Regions from separate parts of the Homo sapiens genome. Here region 1 is linked to region 2. Evidence: fine-mapped expression QTL. Tissue or cell type: whole blood. Region 2 holds a variant in brackets; the other region holds the start of a gene. All regions are shown on one strand. Distances are from middle to middle.

Region 1 (8,000 bases), 720 kb after region 2:
CCCAACCTCGAGGAGCTTCCATTATCATGGAGGAGAGATCCAGACCAGTAAACAAAGGCGTAAGCCAGATAATTTTAGATAGTAAAAGTACTCTGAATCAAATAAAGCAGGGCGCTTGATAGGCGAAAGTTCAGGAGGGTGGTCAGGTAAGGCCTTCTACAGCAGCTGAGTCAACTGAGGTCAGAGGCAGGAATCAGAGGGAGGAGACTAGGACATGTTTAGATGAGAGGCAGTATAGACCAAAACTAAGAGGAGGTGCGGATGGGGAGGAGCAAACAGACTTGAGTGATATTTGGAAAGTCACACTGGGAGAATTGTGTAACAAAAGGAATTCCGGAGAGGTGGGAACTGATGGCTCCCAGGCTTCTGGCTTGGGTGAGTGGGCGAATTGTGGTGCCACCAGATAAAATAAAGCAGGAGTGTGTCTTGAGGAAATGAGGAATTCTGTTTTGACATTGTGAGGTGCCACCGGGATGCCCAGGCAGCCATGCTAAGGGAATAACAGGTCAGGGCTTGTTATTTGGGATCTAGCATCATAGATGTGGCCATTAAAACCAAGTGTGTCTGAGAAAGAAACAAGAGAAGATGGTAGGCAAAAGAGGACACTCAGGGCCAGGTGTGGTGGTTCACACCTGTAATCCCAGCACTTTGGGAGATGGAGGCGGGTGGATCACCTGAGTTCAGGAGTTTGAGACCAGCCCGGCCAACATGATGAAACCCCATCTATACTAAAAATACAAAAATTAGCCGGGTATGGTGGCGGGCACCTGTAATCCTAGTTCCTTGGGAGGCTGAGGCAGAATTGCTTGAACCCGGCGGGGGGCAGGGCAGAGGTTGCAGTGAGCTGAGATTGTGCCACTTCACTCCAGCCTGAGTGAAAGAGCGAGACTTTGTCTCAAAAACAAACAAACAAACAAAAAACAAACAAACAAAAAAAACCCAGGACACTCAGGTTCAGGGAGCAGATTTCTAAATTGGAAGCTACTTGAGCCTGTGTCTAGGTTGAGCGGAAGGATCCAGGGCAGCCAGAGGGGTTCACTTATCCCAAAAGCCAGGGAAGGTTCCTGCGAAAAACTCTTCCCAACTACAAGCATTCTGACCACTCATATTTTCAGCATTAAGAGAGAAACTGGCCGGGCGCGGTGGCTCACGCCTGTAATCCCAGCACTTTGGGAGGCCGAGGCGGGCGGATCACGAGGTCAGGAGATCGAGACCATCCCGGCTAAAACGGTGAAACCCCGTCTCTACTAAAAATACAAAAAATTAGCCGGGCGTAGTGGCGGGCGCCTGTAGTCCCAGCTACTTGGGAGGCTGAGGCAGGAGAATGGCGTGAACCCGGGAGGCGGAGCTTGCAGTGAGCCGAGATCCCGCCACTGCACTCCAGCCTGGGTGACAGAGCGAGACTCCATCTCAAAAAAAAAAAAAAAAAAAAAAAAAAAAAAAAAAAAAAAAGAGAAACTGTTGTCAACAAAAAAATCATGTAATTCCCAATATGTATATCACAATACCTTGAAACTTTGCCATGTCACTTGGGTCCCTTGTGGGCTCTGAGGGAGCAGCTCTGAGACTGATGCAACAAGGTTGGGTGTTGATGGAAGGGATGGGCTGGCTTGGGAGCCTGGCTGGGAGCTCAGAGGTATAGGAGGAAGTGTCTCTTGTCAGGGAGGAAGTAGGAGTTTAAGGAGAGTGGTGAAGGTTAGGGGTGGAAGAGGGTGATGTGCAGGTGACAGGTGAGGACACCTCTTGGAGAAACTTTGGATATGTCACAGTGTGGGCCAAGGCTTAAACGTTATGCACTCAGAGCTGGAGAAGCCTTCAAGAAGAACTAGGATGAAGGATTAGGAGAACTGGCATTTGAAAAGTGGAGTGGCCCTGGAGCAGGCCATACCTCCTCGTAGCTCATTTTCCTCATGTCTAAAATGAGCCAAATGGTCTTTTAGAGGCTAGGTGCGGTGGCTCACACCTGTAATCCCAGCACTTTGGGAGGCCGAGGAGGGAGGATCACTTGAGCCCAGGAGTTTGAGACCAGCTTGGGCAACATAGTGAGACCCTGCCTCTACAAAGAAGTGGTGCGAGACTGTAGTCCCAGGAGCTAAGGAGGCTAAGCTGGGAGGATGGCTTGGCGTGGGAAAGTGGGGACTGCAGTGAGCCCTCATCTCTCCACTGCCTCTAGCCTGGTTTGCAGAGTGAGACCCTGTCTTAAAAAAATAAAAATAAAAATAGGCTGGGCGCGGTGGCTCACGCCTGTAATCCCAGCACTTTGGGAGGCCGAGGCGGGCGGATCACGAGGTCAGGAGATCAAGACCACGGTGAAACCCCGTCTCTACTAAAAATACAAAAAATTAGCCCGGCGCGGTGGCGGGCACCTGTAGTCCCAGCTACTCTGGAGGCTGAGGCAGAATGGCGTGAACCCCGGGAGGTGGAGCTTGCAGTGAGCCAAGATTGCACCACTGCACTCCAGCCTGGGTGACAGAGCGAGACTCTGTCTCAAAAAAAAAAAAAAATAAAAATAATAAATAAATAAATAAATAAATAAATAAAATAAACCCCTCAAATGGCAACAGCAAAAACACATAAATGGTCTCTTAAATTCCCTGGAAGTTGTAAAGACAGTAAGTACATGCCGGTACCTCCCTCAGTTGCTTGAGCTGTTCTCCTGGAACTCACTGCCCTTCAGATAGCCACAACACTTGACACACAATATTTTCCATACCCGTAGGCATCTATCATTCAGAGGAAGAGGCTTATCTTCCAGTCTTTGTACCCTGCAGGGCCCAATGCAGGCTGGCTGGTGGGCACCTGGCCTCCAGGAATGCTTCCTGGAATAGCAATGAATGGCGCTCTAGTCTCTTAGAGTCTCAGCATTTATGTCCATTTCAATTAAAGAAAAAAAAAAAAAAAGAATCGCAGGAGGTGGTGTAGTGAGCAGCACAGGATAACGCGCTTCGTAGGTATGAACTCAGTTAACCCCACAGTCACACTATGAAGTGTGTTATCCCCATTTCCCAGATAAGGGAAAAGACAGAGAGGTTAAGTAATTTGACCAAAGTCAACAGCTGGTGACTGGAGAGCCAGGTTTAAAAACCGGATGCCGGCTCCGTGCAGCAGCCCGCCGATGGCTACTGGAGCGGAGAGGTTCCGAGGTTTCAGGGGCATTTTGTCCTTTCCCACTTCTGGGCCGTGGGCTCCCCCATAGACGATCCCGCGGGCCCTTCCTCCTCTGACACCCTCGGATCTGGTTCCACCTTTCCCGGACCGCAGCTCAGCCCCGCGCCTCTCCAGCTCTTCGATGACCGGTTCCCGGCCGTGCCCCGGGCCCTCCCTCGGAGCGCGCGCCGCCAGGGGCACCTGTCCCTGCGCGGGGGTGTCGCCGCCCCTCGGCGCCGCCGGGCGCTTGCCGCTGAGCCGTGGCGCCCCTGGCAGGAGCACTGCAAGGACGCCTCCCGGGACTGCACCGCGGCCCTGCGCACTTGGGGCGACGGGGCCAGGCGCGGGGGACGGCTGCGGGCTGGGAGGGCGCGCGGAGGAGACACCGCTGAGGGGACGCCGCTGAGGGCGCCACGCGGGGGGCGCGGCTGAGGCGCCTCGAAGGGCAAGCGCCAAGGGGGCGCGGGCGCCGCCGGAAGCTGGGGCGGGGCGCCCAGCGGGATGCGGTGAAGGGCGAGCGGCGCGGCGGCTGCGATGAGTGCCTCTGCGGCCACCGGGGTCTTCGTGCTGTCCCTCTCGGCCATCCCGGTCACCTATGTCTTCAACCACCTGGCGGCCCAGCATGAGTGAGTGAGCCGGCGCGGCGGGGGTCGCGCCGAGGGGCGGCGGGAGTTGGCTCGCCGCGACGGGAGCCTCGCAACTTTTCCGAGGGGGCTGGGACCGTCCGCCGCGGGACAGAGGTTCGTGGCCGCAGGGGCTCCCCGCGCCTGGCCAGACTAGGGGGGCGCCCCAGGGGTCGCACGGGCCGGGTCTTGGAGCCGGGCCCTGAGGTGCCCAGGCTGGCGCATTTCGGGATGTTGGTGCCAGCACCGCGCCAGGTGCCCGGGGTCACAGGCGTCAATACGGCCATGCCCCTGCCCTGGAGGGGCCCAGGGGCCGGTGGGGAGCGGAACAAACACGGACACTACGAACCTGGCCGTGTCAGCTCGTTTGTGCCTTGTTCTTTTTGCATCTCACGGGAACGTTTCCATGTATGGACTTTCGCATACTTATCATTTCTTATTAATTTTAGAAACTGTTGTGAATGACTAGCAGAAATAGCCCGGAACCAACAGGCAGAGACGTGGGTTCTAGGCCTGGCTTTGGCACTGACGGTGTCTGGCCTGACGGTGTTTGGCACTGACGGTGTGGTCTGGCCTCGGTTTTCCGGTCAAGTGGACTTTGTGTGCGTCCTATTGTAAGGTTCCACCGAGACCTCTTTGTGAAGGGGCGTTGTGAATGGAGAAGTGCTTCCCAGTGCCTGCGCTGGGGTAGGATGGGGACAGGCAGCAGAGGCAGAACACTTCAATGTGAAGGAAATGGGTGGGGCTGATGGAGGGGGACAGGGCTTGGGTTCGAAGCCCTGCCTCCCACTCCACTGCAGGGATCACGGACTAACCTGCAGCCGGCAGCTGAAGGCCTGAGGGTCGCCGGGTGTTGGGACAGGCGCCAGCCTCTGTTCCTGCTGATGTTGGTTGCTGTCTGGAGGGAGGAGGAAGTAACCTGCTATGTCTCTCAGCTGTTGGTGCTAAGGAAATTGCATCAGTCTGTAGGCTGCAAACCCCCTTCAGCTGGTCAGGCCGTGGAGTGTCTGTACATAGGGTGGTAACTTCCTCCTCTCCAGCTGCCTGGCCGCCTGATACAGGCAGCACCCACACTGAGTGCTCACCAGGCACCAGCAGTGTCTACCCTTGGTCTGGCCCAGTCTCTGGAGGCATCCCCTGGAGGCAGCTGCTCTGGGCCACCGAATATTACATGCCTGTCAATATAGTGCATGGGGGACCCTGTGCTCCAAAAAATGGCATTACGGGTAGTTCAGTGAAGATATACTGAGTGCCTACTGTGTGTTTGGCACTGTTCCAAGTGTTGGTGACATAGCTATGAACAAGCCAGAAGAGGCTGTGGAGGCAGGTAATGAGATAGACATCAACAAACATTAATACATCGATAGTGACATGCTATGAAGATAATAAAATAGGGTGACTGGGGAGGGGGCTGGTGGCCAGGGAAGGCTTCTAGGAGGAGGTAACACTTGAGCTATGGGAAGATCTGGGAATGGAGCCTGTCGGGCAGGAAAATGGAGCAGTGCAGGGGAAGGAATTGGATGGGCGTAGTAGGTATTTTGGAAGGTGAACAGATGGGGCTTACTGAAGAGGGTTGCATGGCAGCAGAGGATTTGAGGATGAGCCCTAGGTTTTGGCCTCAGCCACTGGGAAGATGGTGATGGCATTTACTGAATACAGACTGAACTATGTATTGCTGTGCATGATGGAGCGCACTGGCAAGCACTACAGCATTTTGAATAATTAGTGTCAGCCATTCTTCCTGTCCTCTTGCAGGTTAAAACCCCCGTGGCCTTTGATTCCTCTCTTCTTTCTCCACTCCCTTCCTCCTACTGTCTGCTTCCCCATAAGTCCTGGGGCTCTAGTGTCTGTTCCCTCCTTTCAGTTCTCCCTGGCACTGGCCCTTTCTGACCTGGACTGTGGCAAAGGCTCCGGTGCAAGTCTCGCTGCCCAGCCCCGCTGCGTGTTTCTCGGCCTCGGCCCCCCAGTCCCAGCCCACGCACTAGTGCTCCTGCCGCACCAGCCTGCCTTTGCTCCTTGACCATTCCTCCTCCTCTCCAGCCTCTAGCCCGGACTCCTGCTGCTCCCTGACAGGGATGCTGCCTTCCTCCTATCGCAGACTGTTGAAGCCGCACCTGGACTTTATGGCCACTTCTACCTTCTGCAGACCCTCCCTCTCTCTCCTTTGAGCTCCCTCAGTCCCTTGTTTGCACCTTTCTCCCGAGAGTTACTTTCCTGTGGTAAGAACTTACCTGCCCCGGCTATAGCTCACCCCTCTGTACTGTCCTGCCCAGGCCAGCGCCGTGTGCATCGTAGGCACTCAGGTATGTTTGACTTTGTTGAATCGAGTTTCCTTCCCACCAAACCTTTTATGCAACTCTGAAAACCAGAAAAAGAAAATTAGATTGAGAGGTCAGGAAAGGATTGAGCGTGTTCTGTCTCCCTCTCTCACTGAGAGAGACACACTGCTCACACTCATCCTTGCATGTCCCCTCTCAGTAGGTGTCTGTTCATAGAAGGGCATCAGCAGCCCTTCCCACCCCCCAAGACTAGCAACTTTCTCATCCTGGGGTTAGTCGCAGCCCTTACCTGTCCCTGAGTCCCTGCAGGACCTGTTTCTTCCTGTGGTGAGCAGGTCCTGCACTTGGCTGTTGTAGGAGGGTCTCTGGGGACAGTGCCAAGAGTCAGAGACAATCTGCTGCCCTAGTTTCCCTTCATTCTTCCCTCCTCTCCTGGAGCTAAGAGCATGAGAGGACGCTGTGAACCAGTTCACACTGCTCTGTCCTGCTCCAGAAGAGCACCAACCACGCGATCCTGCTGGCAGTGAGTGCAGGCCCTTGGTAGGAGTGAAGACTGGAGTTGTCACCTGACCACCACCTGCCTCAGGCTGTTCACCATTAAAATGCCTGTCAGCTGACCCAGCACACCCACCTCTTCCCTCATGGGATTCTTCAGCCCAGCATCATACTCTTGACCCACACTGGCTTCCTCCTTCTTCAGCTCATCCCCACAGGAGGAGCCTGGAGCAACCACTGAAGTGCAATCACCAGAAACCTCCTATTTTTCAGTTTCTCACCTGGACATTGAAACAGCCACCCTCATTCTTTTTTAAAAAATGTAATTAATTGTTATTATTTTTTGAGACGGACTCTTGCTCTGTCATCCAAGCGGGACTGCAGTGGTGCAATCTTGGCTCACTGCAGCCTCCAACCCCCAGGTTCAAGCAATTCTACTGCCTCAGCCTCCCAAGTAGCGGGGATTACAGGCATCCGCCACCTCGCCTGGCTAATTTTTTGTATTTTTAGTAGAGACGGGGTTTCACCATGTTGGCCAGGCTGGTCTCCAACTCCTGACCTCGGGTGATCCACCCGCCTCGACCTCCCAAAGTGCTTGGATTACAGGTGTGAGCCACTGCGCCCGGCCTCATTCTTATCATAGAATTGATCCATCTATCATTTATCCATCCATCCTCCATACATTCACCCATACTCCATCCATCCACTCATCATCATCTATCCATCCATTTATCCATCATCCTCCATCATCCATCAATTCATCCATCATCCATCCATCCATTTATCCATCATCCTCCATCATCCATCAATTCATCCATCATCCATCCATCTATTCACCCATCATCCACCCATTCACCCATCATCCATCCATCCATTCATCCATCATCTATCCATTCATCCATCATCTATCCATCCTTTCATCCATCATCCATCCAACCATTCACCCATCATCCATCCATCTATCCATCCACTCATCGTCTATTTGTTCCCCCCTTCCCTCCCTCCTTCTATTCTTATCTTTCTCTCTCCTAGGGGACGGTGATAGTTATCCAAAGGTCCCGATGTTGGGCTGTGGTGGTGTGGAGGGGTCTCAGTTGAGGAGTGGTGCTTGTAGCTGCTCCAATCTGAAGAGGTCCTGGTGTAGCAGGCCATTGGAGTGGGCCAGGTAGTATTTTGTCTAGAATTGGAAGCCCTGTCAGTGCTGGAGGTGTGAGAGGGAGAGTATTGCTGTTGGACTGCAGGAGAACTCCTAGTGGGTAGAGCTCAGAGTCCATTGAGATAGGTTCCTCCATGTAGGCAGGGACTTCTCTTATTTATCCAGTCTCCTAGGGCCTGCAACAATGGCTACCACATAGGGGTGCAGAATACATTTTTTTGCTTGCTATGTTTTTGAATTAATTAATAAACAGATAGATGCAATGATGTGACTTTCCTAGGGTGACACAGTTAGCAACAG
Region 2 (8,263 bases):
GGCTGCATGAATGACCTGCCTGGTCAAACCAATACCCTGGTCCCTGTGCAAATCAGACACCACCTCCTCCAGCCTCCCAATATAACCGAGTACTGTTCTGCCACACACGGGGCTTTTTCTCTGTTCGGAGCCCCCCTTTTTCTGTACCGCAGGGAGCCTTTCTTCTTTCTTGCCTATTAAACTTTCTGTTCCTTAAAACCACTCCTGTGTGTCCATATCGTTTAACTGACGTGACACAAAGGACCCCGATGTTTCTCCAGTCATCAGAGCCATATCACTTTGAGTCCAGAGGAATTATTGTTTTCATTTATCTGAATTTATAATATAGAGTCAAATTCCTAGTGGTTATCCTCTCTCATCCCCATTTTTATAGCCTTCCTTGAAAGGAACAGGTATATGAAGAGGAGACAGGTTTCCCTTTTGTGAATAGTATATCCCTTAGTATCTTGATTTTTTTTGGTGGGAGTCGGGGGAGTTAAACTTACTTAGACCTGGTAAAGGGCAGTATTTGATAAATGTCAGCTAGTTTAGGGTTAGGGAATTGAGTTGAATGGAGATAGTCACTGCCAAATGTAAAGCATGACTGGAGAGCCAGAGTGATGAAGCCAGGGTCCCTTTCTCCAGATCCTTTGTAACAGTGTTATGTGATCTCTTCTAGAAGATCGTGCTGAAAGATAATGCCAACTCAGAACCTAGGAAACCATCCAGTGGGTTTCTGCAGCTTAGGTGTTTCAAATCCTCATCAGCAGGTTCGTTTTCTCTGCCTCAGTTTGCTTACAATGATGTTCTCAGTAGCTGTAATTGCTGTCTGTCTTTGAATACTTAAGCATTTTATTTTAGCTCACAGGGGTATGTATGCATTTTTCTTTTACCAAGTGTTAGAACTTTGACTCTGCTTTTGTGGGCTCTGGGTTAGCAACTTGGTTGTTTAGTTGTAAAATGATTAGCAGGGAAAACCGTGTGTGTGTGTGTGTGTGTGTGTGTGTGTGTGTGTGTGTGTGTGTGTATTTTAAGTTTCTTTTGTTGTCAGAGCACTTCGAATTTTATGTGGAAATTCTGTCAGTTTACTTGATTCTCCACCCCACAGTTATTGAACAGGAAAGTGTGAAGGTAACGCGTCCCATAACCAGCCTTCAGAAGAATTACAGCTGCTGTATCTCTGAACTTTCAAGAAGTTTGTGCATCAATTTTCAAAAAATTATGAAATCCCTGAAGATAGCTGTGTTCTACATTTGGAAAGATACAAAAACTGAACCTTCTAGCAGGCCGTTTTGCTTGCTGGTGCTTGAGATAGAGCCACACACTGGTCTCAGTGGATTTGTGGAGAAAAGTAGGTACAGAAAGTTATTTCTAAATAAGACCAAAAAATCCTTTTCTTAAGCAGTGACAGGTAAAGAGGTTGTCTTGGCTAACCTTGAATTGTGTTGCCCTTGATAGAGACAGTTTTATGATGGGGATGGTAGTGATGATAAACTTGTTGGAAATTTGTCCACTTATGGTAACCTTTGTGGTAGCTGTCACAGACAACTTCATCCTCACAGGCCCTAAAATTACTATAAAACTAATAGAATGGAGGAGAAACAAAGGACCTGAATAATTAGATGCTTGGATAATTGTTCTGTGTTTTCATAACAAGTGAAAAAGAGCAGTGTTAGAAGTACTTAAACATTCCATGTAAGGAACACTGCCTGAATTTATATTGTGATTTTAGAGCATCATTCACTGTTTAAAAACAGGCATATTCTAGGTAATATTTTAAAGACAAATAGAAAACTTACCTTTTCAAGATGGATATAAAGCTTAACCTTATCAAAATTACAAAATGTAAAGCATACGATTGAAAAATATTAATGCATAGGTTTAAATATTGGTCATCATTTTAGATGTCTTTCAAAGTAGGTTGTCTCTTAAATATTAAACTGAACAAACATTGAACTTGTTGTAGAGTTTGTGCTCAAGGTTAAGTTTCCTGGGGTGATGGATATTTGATAATATGGATAACAAAAAGTTCTTATTTTAAGAAATTTAGAAAATTTTTAGGCAAAGCTAGAAAATAATACCAATAATTCTACCACTCAGAATGTACCACTATCAGAATTTTGTATCTTTCAGTCATCTGCTCATCTCTTTTCTCCTTTGCTTGTATGTGTTCCCTCTCCCTTAAAAAAATCAGATTTTTTATTATAATCTGCATTTTCACTCAACAATATTGTAGATCTGTGTCATAAGTTATTCCTCTACAGTGCCTTCAGTTATTGTGTGCTTTGTGTTGGATAACTATACCATCTAGTCTTTCATGTTTCCTGGTACTGACTACATAAGGGTGAGAGAGAGAGAGAGAGAGAGAGAGAGAGAGAGTGTGTGTGTGTGTGTGTGTGTGTATTTTTTTTCTACCTTAACTAATGCTTTGGACATCAACAGGTAGAGCTAAATCCTTGAAACCTTCCAAGTGGTGGCTTTCAGTTATTGCTGAATTGGTTTTTAGAGATGGAACAAATTATATTGTATGGAAACTTTTTTTTTTTTTTTTTGAGACAAAGTCTCACCTTGTCGCCCAGGCTGGAGAGCAATGGCATGATCTTGGCTCACTGCAATCTCTGCCTCCCAGGTTCAAGTGATTCTCTTGCCTCAGCCTCCCGAGTAGTTGGGATTACAGGTGCTTGCCACCATGCCCGGCTAATTTTTGTCTTTTTACTAGAGATGGGGTTTCATCATGTTGGCCAGGCTTGTCTCGAACTCCTGACCTCAGGTGATCCACTCACCTTGGCCTCCTAAACTACTGGGATTACAGGCATAAGCCACCATACCCAGCCTTTTTTTCTTCTAGGTACCAGCTTTTATTTATCAGATTGGTATAAATGTTAGAAAGCGTGCAATGAAATGGGCATTTTCACAGTCGTGGCAGAAAGTATAATTATCTTTGACTTTCTAGAAAGCAGTCTGGCATTCTAGAAACTTGCCTAACCTCTTCCCATTTAGGCAAGATGAATTCTCACTACCCGTAGGTGGCCAACCTTGTCCTTGTGATTCCGTATCTTCCAGAAAGAGAGGTCTAGTCTCAGGGAAAACCCAGATTTTCTTGGCTTAGCCCACCTGACAGCTAATCACTGGAAATGAGGTGGGCCGGTAGAGTCCTTTGGTCAGGTTTTGTGTCAAGAGAGGAATGTGGAAAGATGGGAGGGAGGTAGCAAAACTGGCCTCAATGGAACTATGTAAGTTAACATAGAATGACAAAGGAATGTTTCTTCCAGGGAAGAAATTCTAGGGAAGGAAGAAAGTGGAGGGGAAGGCAGCAGTTCTCAAAGTTTTGGGGTCAGGATTCCTTTACACTCTTAAAAGTATATTGAGGGCCCAAGGAGCTTTTCTGTATATAGGTTATATCTATTGGTATTTATCACTAAAAATTAAATCAGAAATACTTAAAATATTCCTTAAAAGCTCACCAAATTTTGTTATAAATGCTTTTATGAAAAGAAAATTTCTAAACCCAAAGTAGTACAATCTTACACCTTTTGCAAATTTCGTTGATGTTTGATATGTCATTTGCACCTGCATTCAATTTATTGTGTGATATTTGCTTGAAAAAATGTGAACAAAGAACAATCTCATACAGATAGGCATTTTAGATCCTTATGGATATTTTTTATTTTTTATTTTTTTTTATTTTTGAGATGGGGTCTTTCTCTGTCTCCCAGGCTGGAATGCAGTGCTATGATCACGGCTCACTGGAGCCTCATTCTCTGGGGACTCAGGTGCTCCTCCCACCTCAGCCTCCAGAGTAGCTGGGACTACAGGTGTGTACTACTCCACCTAGCTAATTTTTTGTATTTTTTGTAGATACAGGGTTTTGCCATAGGTATTCAAATAGAAAGTTTTGTTTTTGTTTTAGTATATAAAGAAATATAACTTTCCATGTTGAAAAAATTTTAAAAACCTTTTTTTAAATTATAAAACTCATAAGCAACCATTGTTGAGAAAATTAGTAAAGTACAGAAAAAAGAAAAAAATTAAAGTCTCCCATAATTTCTTTACCTAATATAACCACTATTGACAGTTGACATGATGGCCATTTTCTACCAGTATATGTTTTTTCTTTGCTGGTAAAATACATAACCCTTACATATATGTTTAAATAGTTGAGGTCGTATTCTCCATAGGTTTATATTCTTTTTTTTTTTTTTTTTTTGACGCGGAGTCTCACTTTGTCGCCCAGGCTGGAATGCAGTGGCGTGATCTCAGCTCACTGGAAGCTCCACCTCCTGGGTTCACACCATTCTCCTGCCTCAGCCTCCCCAGTAGCTGGGACTACAGGCGCCCGCCACCATTCCCGGCTAATTTTTTGTATTTTTTAGTAGAGATGGGGTTTCACCATGTTAGCCAGGATGGTCTGGATCTCCTGACCGCGTGATCTGCCCACCTTGGCCTCCCAAAGTGCTGGGATTACAGGCGTGAGCCACTGTGCCCAGCCCTTTTATATTCTTTTAAAAAGTATTTACTGTATTTTCCCATGATGTCATAGTCTTTATAGAAAAATAACAATCATTATTTTCAGTTGACATGATTGTTTACCTAAAAATATCCAAAGGAACCAACTGAAAAAAAACAATTTTTAAGATTACTGGTTAAAAGTTCTTTTATATAAAAATCAATAGCCTTCCCCAATGTTAGCTATAATCACATAGAACATATAGTGATGAAGTATTTTTTCAGGTATTTCAGCAAAAATTAAATACCTAGGAATAAACTTAGATGTGCAGGGCTTTTATCAAGGACATGACAAAATTTTGCTGAGAGGAATGAAAGATTTGCATTCTATGTTCCTGAATGAGCAGATTTCATGTTATAAATATGTTATCACCATGTCTTCATATTAATTTATAAATGTAATTTCTGCTGGGCACAGTGGCTCATACCTGTAATCTGAACAGTTTGGGAAGCTGAAGTGGGTAGATGACAATTAGCTGGGTGTCTGTGGCACACACTTGTTCCAACTACTTCTGAGGCCGAGGTGGGAGGATCACTTGAGCCTGGGAGGCAGAGGTTGCAGTGAGCCGAGATCTGCCTCTGAACTCCAGCCTAGGTGACAGAATAAGACCCTGTCT[C/CAA]AAAAAAAAAAAAAAAAACACACAGGAAAAAAAAGGGTGTATATATATACACATTTTATATTTCATATATATATTTATATATAAATTTTGTATATATATGTATATATACAAATTTCAGTAGAAATTCCAGCAGATTTATTTTTGGCATTTGACAAAATGACTCTAAAATTTGTTTAGAAGAGTAAATAATAAAAATTAATAAAGTATAGACTCTTTCAACCAGATATTAAATAAAATATTGTGGACTAGCCCTGGGCCAGACAGATAAAGGCAATGAAAGTTTAGAACCAGAGTCATGCAAATGAGAATTTAGTGTAAGGAAAAGGTGGTGCTTTAACTTAGTAGTGAAAAGACAGATTATTCTGTAAATAGTTTTAGGAGAACTGGCCATTTGAGGAAGTTTGAGTCTTAACTCCAATTTTTGTCAAAATAAGTTGTAGTTGGTTTAAACACATCTATTCTTAAAAATTAGAACAGAAGAACATCGATTTGAAGATATTTTAAGAGTTAAGGCTGAGGCTGGGCACAGTGGTTCACGCCTGTAATCCCAGCACTTTCAAGGCCAAGTTGGGAGGATTGCTTGAGCCCAGGAGTTTGAGATCAGCCTGGGCAACATAGCAAGACTCTCTCTCTCTAGATATAGATATACATATAAATATACATATAGAGATACAAAAAAAGAGTTAAGTTTTGTATGGAGAGCCATGAAGATAAGAGGTGAAAATTAAAGGCTTGATGGACACATGTTTACATCTCCAGCAAGGGGGTTGATGGGAAAGACTGATAGACATAGCTCCATTACTGCTACCTCCTTTTAGGAAGTTGCTTCTGAATATCTAAAGATAACAGTTTTATAATAGCAGAAATGAGGTTTTTTTCAGTGTCTAAAACATTACATGAAATACATACATACATAAACATGTTCAAAAGTTAAATGAAGTAGGATATAAAATTGGGCCTAGTGTTTAAAACAATAAATATATTTACATGAAGGAGAAAACAACTCACTTCCCACTCTTACAGCCTCTGCCAGTTTATCATAGCCTAGTTTCTTGAGAGAATAAGCTACATGTCTTCACCTTTTTTCACTGAACTCATTATAATCTGGATTCTGCCTTCATCTTTGCGCTAAAATTTATCTCCTCGTTTCCAAATCCAGTGGCTCCCCTCTTAGTCCACAAATTGACTCCTCTGCAGTATTTTGTTAATGTTGATTGTTCCTTTGTTGAAACATTCCTCCGTTCTTAATGTCCACCAGCAAAGAGTTGGTTAAATAAAAATTATAGTGTACAGTTTTATAATAGAATATTCTGTTATAGACCAAAAAAAATGCAGCCAGTCTTTCCATAAAAGCATGTGCAAACTTCTAAGATGTATTAAGTAAAAAAGTAAGGCATAAAATATTGTGTATAATCTGACCTCTTTAGTATACAGTGTAAAAAAATCTATGTCTGTGCTAGTTTATACTTACTTTTTTCTCCCCTGGTGGATACAGGAAATTGTGAGTAGTAGAACACAATTAAAAAAGACTGTGTGGCTTCTGTGCCAGGACCTGTGATAGTTGATAGTTGGGTATAAAAGACAAAAAAGGCATGTCCCTGTCCTCTGGGAAGGGACATGATAGTCGAATGGGACTTTTATCAGATTGTTTTCTCCTGTTTTGATCTTATCACCCTGCCTTGGTCTCCTCCGATCTCTTCTTCCTTGTCCTACTTCTTTCTTCTCTTCTCATTCTGTGCTTTCTCTGAGTAATCTTTGACTCCCATTACTTAAGTCATGACCTGTGTTCCAGGGACTCCTAAATTTGTATTCATCTCCGGAGTTTCAAACCCATATATCTGTCTGTATATCATATATGTTAGGGAATCTCACTTGGAGTGACATGGGTGTTCAAAATGATGGTATTTAAATTTTCATGTATTCACCTCCTAGCACTCTATCAGCCCCATCATGTGTCCCATCAGTAATTGTCCTTGTCATTGTGAGTGGGACAAAATGAAATAATCAAACTAGTCACCCATGCCTCAACCTGGGAACTGTCTTAGCGTTCTTTTATATGCTACTGTTCTCTGACCTCCCCCCCAAAGTACGTTTCTAAGACCTGTCCTTCTAAATGTCTCTTACTATTTTCCCTGTGATCTCAGTTTCTTCTTCCCATCCCTCAAATGCTTTTTGTGTGTGTGTGGTGGGGGAAGAGAGTAAAATTGAAATTCGTGGAAAATGTACTACCCTGTCTTTCTTCCTTTCTTTCTTTCTCTCTTTCTCTCTCTCTCTCTTTCTTTCTTTCAATGAAGTCTCGCTCTTGTCGCCCAGGCTGGAGTACAATGGCACAATCTCGGCTCACTGCAACCTCCATCTCCTGGGTTCAAGTGATTCTCCTGCCTCAACCTCCTGAGTAGCTGGGATTACAGGCACCTGCCACCATGCCCAGCTAATTTTTGTATTTTTAGTAGAGATGAGGTTTCATCATGTTCACCAGGCTGGTCTCGAACTCCTGGCCACTACCCTGTCTTTCTTGTTGCTTGGTATGACTCCACTACCCTGCTCCCTCTCTCCCCCTGCAGCGGGATAATTTAGGAATCAGAGAGACTGAAGGGTTGAGGAGGATATATATTATTATTATTTAGGTGCACCGGCCCAGTCAAATTTAACATCTAAAGGACTGAGCCCTGAACAAAGAGTCAGGTTACCTTTTAAACATTTTATCGGGTCGGGGGAGATCTGTGCAGGGGGAGGCATATTACAGAAGCAAGAAACAAAGACAGTTATTCAGTTGAGACATGCATTACATTATTTCTTACTTTTCAAGGAAAAACCTGTTTTTCGACTGAGTTTATCTGTCTAGTGACCTTGCAGCTGCACAGCTAGAGAATCAGGGTCTTCACAATGCCTGGGAGACGAGGAGAGATAAGGTTCACTAGCCTCAGAAAAACAGACAGTTAATTTTTAAAGGACTCCACCTCTTTTTCTTTCTTAGGGGGAATTGGGTTTTTTTTTTTTTTTATAACTGAGTTTTTGCTTACACATTCTTTTTATTATTATTATTATACTTTAAGTTCTAGGGTACATTTGCATAACGTTCAGGTTTGTTACATATGTATACATGTGCCATGTTGGTGTCCTGCACCCATTAACTCATCATTTACATTAGGTATACCTCC

What was found. PIP is the estimated chance that this variant, and not a neighbour inherited with it, causes the effect.
Region 1: TM6SF1 starts here. The variant in region 2 is fine-mapped to the expression of TM6SF1 in whole blood (INTERVAL, PIP above 0.99).

The regions. Positions count from the first base shown.
Region 1 is chr15:83,104,000-83,111,999 of GRCh38, forward strand. It overlaps TM6SF1 (transmembrane 6 superfamily member 1), which reads left to right and starts at 3,646. Exons shown (of 10, transcript NM_023003.5): 1 at 3,646-3,773. The coding sequence starts at 3,682. RefSeq lists silencers at 3,274-3,553, 3,584-3,703.
Region 2 is chr15:82,381,550-82,389,812 of GRCh38, forward strand. It overlaps the pseudogene UBE2Q2P2. Among named protein-coding and RNA genes, the nearest start is that of GOLGA6L10, 36 kb to the left of the region's middle. The variant C/CAA (reference allele first, on the strand shown) is at 5,103.